Linked DNA regions of Homo sapiens. The protein of the gene in region 1 purifies or fractionates together with the protein of each later gene. This does not show direct contact. Each region holds a gene or a part of one and is shown on either strand. Other genes may lie near its edges. The genes, in order: EEF1AKMT1 and EGLN1.

Region 1 (3,830 bases):
AACTCCCAGAACAAAAAGGTAGTTTAAAACAAATGCAAAGCAAGTAGAAGGAAGGAAATGAAAGGCAGAAATCAATGAAATTGAAAATAAAGTCAATGATGCAAAAACTTATTTTTTAAAAGAGATCAATAAAATTGATGAACCTTTAGTAAGAAAAAAGAGAAAACAGAAATTACTGACATTAGGAATGAAATGGGGGATATCAGTACAGATCCTAAAGACATTAGAAATAATTGAGGACTGCTATAAACATCTCTATCCAGATAAATTTTAACAACTTAGATGAAGCAGACCAATTCGTTGAAACTACAAACTACGAGAACTCACCCCATATGAAACTGATAATGTGAATAGCCGTGTAAGTATTAAATTGAATTTGCAGTTAAAGGCCTCTCATACAAGAAATTTTCAGGCCAGGCATGGTGGCTCATGCCTGTAATCTCAGCAGTTTGGGAGACCTAGGCGGGCAGATCACCAGAGGTCAGGAGTTTGAGACTGGCCTGGCCAACATGGTGAAACTCCATCTCTACTAAAAATGCAAAAATTAGCCAGGGTGGGTGGTAGGCACCTGTAATCCCAGCTATTTGGGAGGCTGAGGCTGGAAAATCGCTTGAACCCAGGAGGCGGAGGTTGCCGTGAGCTGAGATCGAGCCATTGCACTCCAGCCTGGGCGACAATAGCAAAATTCTGTTTCAAAAAAAAAAAACAAAAATTTCGGGCCTTAAATGCTAGGGATGCTATAACAAAATACCGTAGACTGGGTGGCTAAAAGTAATGGCAGAAACAGCAATTACCTTTGCACCAACCTAGCATCTCCAGATATAATTACAATGAGGGTTAAGGCTTTAACATATAAATGGGGTGCAGGGTGGGAGGGGGGTGGTGTGTCAATTGAATCCATAGCACATGATTTCACTGAAAAAAATTACCAAATGTTTATTGCGTTAGCACTGATTGTACACAGTCTTTTCCAGAAAATAGAAGAGGAGACATTTCTAGTTTATTTGATGAGACCAATATTACCTTGTTACCAAAACCAAAGACAATACAAAGACCGAAAACAATAGACAAATATACCTCATGAAGATAGGTGACGAAATCCTCAGCAAAATATTAGTAAATATGATTTAGCAATACATAAGAAGAATCAGTTAAGTGGAACCTATTCCAGGAATGTGAGACTGGTTTAATAGATAATCAGTTTAATTTATATCATGAGGTTAAAGAAAAATCACATGATCGTATAAGTTGATATCAAAAAGTTATTTGAAAATTCAACACCCATTCATGATGAAACTTGGCAAACTACTAATAAAGGGAATGTCCTCATCTTAACATAGAACATCTACACCCTGGGTGTAGTGACTCACACCTGTAATCCCAGCACTTTCGGAGGCTGAGGCAGGAGGAACACTTGAGCTCAGGAGTTTGAGACCAGCCTGGGCACCAGAGTGGGACCCCATCTCTACAAAAAATAAAAATGTTAGCCGGGCATGGTGGCGCATGCCTGTAGTCCCAGCTGCTTGGGAGGCTGAGGTGGAAAGATCACTTGAGCCCAGAAGGTTGTGGCTGCATCATATTTAATGGTGAAAGATTGAATGCTTTCCCACTTAAAATCTGGGACAAGTGTAGGATATCTGCTCTTATCACTCCTATTCAGCTCACTAGAAGTCCTGGCCAGGCACGATGGTTCATGCCTGTAATCCCAGCACTTTGGGAGGCCGAGGTGGGCGGATCACTTGAGGTTAGGAGTTCGAAACTAGCCTGGCCAACATGTGAAACCCCATCTCTACTAAAAATGCAAAAAAATTTAGCTGGGCGTGGTGGCAGGTGCCTGTAATCCCAGCTACTGGGGATGCTGCTGAAGCAGGGAGAATCGCTTGAACCCAGGAGGTGGAGGTTGCAGTGAGCCAAGAATGCACCACTGCACTCCAGCCTGGGCAACAGAGCAAGACTCTGCCTCAAATTAAAAAAAAAAAAAAAAAAAAGACTGATGAAATACATCAAAGATGAACTAAATAAATGGAGAGATGTGCCATGTTTTATGGATTGGAAGACCCCGAAAAATAAAGGTTCTCGTTCTGTTACCCAGGCTGAAATACAGTGGTATGATCTTGGCTCACTGCATCCTATGCCTCCAGACTCAAGTGATCCTCCCACCACAGCCTCCCATGTAGCTGGGTCTACAGGCACATGCCATCACACTCAGCTAATTTTTAAAAACATTTTTGTAGAGACAAGGTCTCACTGTATTGCCCAGGCTGCTCCTAGGCTCAAGTGATCCTCCTGTCTCAGCCTCCCACATTCCACCTGAATTATACACTTTAAATAGATGAATTGTATGGTATATGAATTAGATCTCAATACAAATGTTTTAAAATTTGCACATTTCACTTCAATAGGCATTTCAAAAACAACTACATGACTGCAAAGAGAATCCTGACTTCTCTGGCCACAGTAAACCTCATAGTACAGGGATTCAGTTCTTCATTTGATGAAACCCTCTTATAATGTATCATCATGAAATAAATTTTTTGATGTCCTCAAAATAAACACACTCTAACCATAAAATCCAACATCATACTCTTGAGCATTTATCCAGAGAAATGAAAATGAAAATTCCTATACATTTTACAGGAATGTTCACAACAGCTCTATTTGTAATACCTTAAAATTGGAAACAACCCAAATGTTTTAGTGGGTGAATGGTTAAGTGTGGCCATACTATGGATTACTACTCAGCAATAAAAAGGAATAAACTATTGATACACAGAACAACCTGGGTAAATTTTAAACCATGCTGAGTGAAAATGACAATCTCAAGTTATATAATGTATGATTCCATTTATCTAAAGTGACAAAATTATTGAAACGGAGAACAAATGCTTTCCAGGGGTTAAGAATGGAGATTGAGGTGGGAGAGGATGGGAATGACTTTAAAAAGGTAGTACAACTCATCTCTTTGGTGCTGGAATATTCTGTCTCTTATCCATGGAAGTGTTTTCATGAATCTACACGTGATATCATTATATAAAACTATACACATGTGCATACGCCTGCAAATAAATGTGTGTAAAACTGGTGAACTGCACGAGCTCTGTGGATTGTACTGTTCATTTCCTGGTTTGACAATGCACTGTAGTTATATAAGTTACTACCATTGTGGAAAAATAGGTGGAAGGATACATGGGATGGACCTTCATTATTTTTGCACATTCCTGTGAATCTGTGATTATTTCAGAGTAGAAAGCTTAGGAATGAGAATTGGTGTAGAAAAATAGAAATATTTATGTCCAAATTATCAGATTCTTTTCCAAAAGATTATGCCAATTTAAATTGTTATCTAAATTAGAGAGTATACCAATATCACTACCTTCTCATCAGCATTAAGTGTGTCCATTATTTTGATGTTTTATCTGTGTATTCTTTTTAATTTTTTAGAGTATGTATATTTTTAAATTTTAAAACATATTTTATTTTTAATTTTAGATTCAGGGCATACATGTGCAGGGTATATTGGGTGATACTGGAGTTTGGGTTTCTAGTGAACCCATCACCCAATATTGAACATAATATCTGATAGGGTAGTTTTTTTCAATCCTTCCCCCACTCTTCCCGGCTCCTCTCTTGGAGTCCCTAGTATCTATTATTTCTGTCTTTATGTCCACCTGTACCCATTGTTTAGCTCCCGTCTACAAGTGAGAGCATGTGGTATTTGGTTTTCTGTTTCTCTTTTAATTCACGTAGGATAATAGCCTCTAGCTGCATCCATGTTGCTGCAAAGGACATGATTTCACTCTTTTTTATGGCTGTGTACTATTCCATGGTGT
Region 2 (3,830 bases), on another chromosome or scaffold:
CTTGTTATCCGGGCAATGGAACGGGTTATGTACGTCATGTTGATAATCCAAATGGAGATGGAAGATGTGTGACATGTATATATTATCTTAATAAAGACTGGGATGCCAAGGTATGCAACTTAATTGAGCATTTATTTTTTTCTTACAGGTGTCTTTTTCTCAAAAGCATTAAGTTTCATACTTCTGATAAGACTGTCACAGACACAGTTAAAAATTTTCCTCTTAAATTTGTTTCAGTCTCAGGTATTAGGAGTGGATTTTTGTAAAATGAAACAAATACTACTCTATGTTATACAACATGATACCTGTAGTTAACAACGTAGTGTTGTGCACTTAAAAATTTAAGAGGGTAGACTCCATGTTCAGTGTTCTAAACACACACACATACACACACACACACACACACACACACGCACACACGAGGTTAGGGGAAGGGAAACGGAACTTTGAGAGGTGATGGATATGTTTATTACCTTGGTTGTGGTGTGTCATGAGGGTGTGCGTATATATCCAAACTCATCAAATTGTAAATGTTAAAGATATGCATTTTTGTATATCAGTTATACCTCAAAACCATATAAAAAAGTACTGATATATCTTAAAAAGTGGATTCATTTATTTTCAGATGTTAGAGCACTTATCTAAAATCTAACTTTTTTAGAAAGGTGACCTTTATTAAAATATTTTCCTTTTAATAGTTTTTAGAAAAACATTTCTGAGAACAGTTGTTTTATAATGGCTTTTGGGGGAGATTATCTATGGATAATTGTTAAGGATTATTTGCTATGTTATTCTTGGCATTTTTGTAAAAATATTATATGGCATTGAGTTGTTTAATTGAATATTGGAGGCAGGATTCAGTCTTTCCCTGATTATTAAAAAACTGGAAGTTTATCAGTACTGACAAGCCCTGTAAAACCAATTAGAATGTACAATATATTTAATCTCTCTTGTTTTAAATATATATTTCCTTAATATTAGCCTGAGTCTCATTAAATTTAAATGATTTTTAAAAAATATGTCATATATTACTACACTAGAGACTGTACAGACTAATTTTTTGGTTGATTTTTTAAAATCTTAAGTATAACATTCAAATAGAAAAGTGGCTTGTATAGTTCAGTGGATTTTCACAAAGTGAACATACCTGTGTAGCCAGGGTGCCTTTTTTTGTTGTTTTTAAGTCAAATAACCTTTAAAAAACCTCTTTCTCTGCATCCCCCAAAACACACAAATGGAAACTGCCTGAGTCTTAAATGTGCAAAAACCTAATCCTGCCCTAAAAAGTGTTTTAAGTTTAGAATATGCTCACAGTGCTTCACTAATCTTTCTAAAACACACTGATTTAAAGAGTTTTCTCTGCCCTAGTCCAGGTTCAAAATGGAGCTGACCTTTCTGCTGAGTATATATTGAGGCATGTCAACAAGCATGGTTTTTCTGTTACAGCTTTCAAAGTTTGAAGTAGAGAAATAAATTTTGTAATTGAATTTGAGCCCAAGGCACAAAACAGATGGGTGTAACTTTAGTTAAAATTTAAAAATTGACTTTTTTTCAGATTTTGTGAATAGCTAGAAAGCTAGAACTGTGTTTCATCAGCTTCTAACTTCTAGATTTTGTTAGGCTTTTTCTAGGCTGATCTTATAATTTCTATAATACTTAGTCAGGGTCATTAATGTGTAGGTTTTAAATTAGGACATAGGCAGAGAAACGTCCCTAGTGTTTTTGTGTGTAGAATAGAAATTTTCCATGCTAGATTGCACTGAATATGTAGTGTGTCAGTTGTTCTGGATGCTAGGGATGTAGCAGAAACGGAATTAGCCCTGGCAGAGCTTAGGATCTATTGGAGGATACAGATCAGAAAGATTGACAGTTACAGATAGTTATGCAAAGTGTCAAGACAGATTGCTATGGAGCACACAGGAGGGCCACCTAATTCAGAGGAGGAAGAGTGGAAGTGTCAAGTAGCCATTTCACTTAAAACATTTTCAGCAGGTCACCTGTGGTACTCCCAATGACTTGAGTCAAAGGGAAGGGAGCAGGAAAAAAGGAAAGAAGACATGTTCTCAGTTTGGAGGTTCTTTAGATGTTTGCATAGTAGCCTGGGGAATCACTCTGAACAACACTGGAACCTGAGGAAGGTTGGCAAGGGTATCAAAGTAGCTAGAATTTAACTTACCTGACAGTGAGCCTGATAAACCTTTTCTTTAACTATAGATTCTAGGTTTAGGCTCAAACGCCATGTTGTCCTGACCAGGTGTTAGAGTTTCTTTAAATTTTAAGAGTCTACCTGCTTAGGAGTGTAGTTATTCAAGAGTAAGGAGCTACTTGGTTGGTTGGGTTTTGCCTATCCCCAGATCGTAAACCCCGCAAGGACAAAGTCTGTCTGCATTATTCCCTACTCTGCACCCAGAGCCCACCACAGTTCCCAGTGCGATTTGATGCCTAGTTGGTGTTTAGGTAAATAATAATCCTTTATGGGTAGAATCAAGTTTCACAAGCAGGTAGTCATCTGTGCATCAGGCCCAGTCTGGAAAGGGAGAGCCACAGGTTCTAATGAACTATATGCTGATGGTGATGGTGACGACGACAATAATGATGGTCATAATAAATGATGACACTTTCTACTGATATACTGAATTATTTAAGTAAGAGGTATTTGTGACTATCCTATTGTTTATTGAATTTTAAAGTATGGTAAACTATTTGACATAATTTATTTCTAATAATAATTTTGTCAAAATTTCTTGAAATCTATCTATTTGAAGGGTGGGTTAAGCAAATCATTAACATACAAAAATAAACGTTTAGTAGTTTTAAAAGCTTTCAAGCATCATTTTAAGACTTTTAAATTCAGATAACATTCTTGTGTTTCATCAGATATTTATAAAAATCCCTAAAATGGCTGGGGACAGTGGCTCACACCTGTAATACCAGCACTTTGGGAGGCCGAGGTGGGCAGATCACCTGAGGTCAGGAGTTCGAGTCCAGCCTGGCCAACATGGTGAAAACCCATCTCTACTAAAAATGCAAAAATTAGCTGGACATGGTGGCGCATGCCTGTAATCCCAGCTACTCGCGATGCTGAGACAGGAGAATTGCTTGAACCTAGGAGGCGGAGGTTGCAGTGAGCTGAGATTGTGCCACTGCACTCCAGCCTGGGTGACAGCGAGACTCCATCTCAATAAATAAATAAATATCCCTAAAATAAGAACTAAATTTGTCCTTGCATCAGTGCATATACTTTTAAAATTGCAGCTCATCTTCATACTTTATTGAGACGTATTTGTGAATAATCCAATTAAGACATTGAAATTGTCTCTTTTTTTCCCCCTAAATTTAATCTTGTAGCATTTTTGGTTACTCCTGCTTACATATTTGGCTCTTTTCCTAGGTAAGTGGAGGTATACTTCGAATTTTTCCAGAAGGCAAAGCCCAGTTTGCTGACATTGAACCCAAATTTGATAGACTGCTGTTTTTCTGGTCTGACCGTCGCAACCCTCATGAAGTACAACCAGCATATGCTACAAGGTAGTATTCCTTTTCAGAAAAAATTGGTTTAGAGTATGGTAGGACAGGAGGGAATCTGTAGAGTAAACGTGAAAGCTTTCTAATGAGTATTTTCCTGCCAGGTACTTTTCACAGTCATTTTAATTTGAATAATTGTATAAGATTTATGTTGCACAGTCATCTGAATTCAAATAATTATATAAGACTCATTAACAGTTAGTACTAAATGTGTCTTTCTTTGCACAGCCACTCTGAAGAAAGGGAAGCACAGGCCTTCCCATCTTTCTAGCACTCTCTCCGTGCTTTGTGCATCTCTTAACTAC

What was found.
Region 2: the proteins of EEF1AKMT1 (region 1) and EGLN1 purify together in Homo sapiens (affinity purification with mass spectrometry; 2 studies listed by BioGRID and IntAct, with this or other methods). This does not show direct contact.

The regions. Positions count from the first base shown.
Region 1 is NC_000013.11:20,760,334-20,764,163, reverse strand, and holds part of EEF1AKMT1 (EEF1A lysine methyltransferase 1), read left to right. Parts: intron 1-3,830. UniProt on the Homo sapiens protein: Protein N-lysine methyltransferase that selectively catalyzes the trimethylation of EEF1A at 'Lys-79'.
Region 2 is NC_000001.11:231,370,260-231,374,089, reverse strand, and holds part of EGLN1 (egl nine homolog 1), read left to right. Parts: coding exon 1-110; intron 111-3,391; coding exon 3,392-3,528; intron 3,529-3,830. UniProt on the Homo sapiens protein: Cellular oxygen sensor that catalyzes, under normoxic conditions, the post-translational formation of 4-hydroxyproline in hypoxia-inducible factor (HIF) alpha proteins.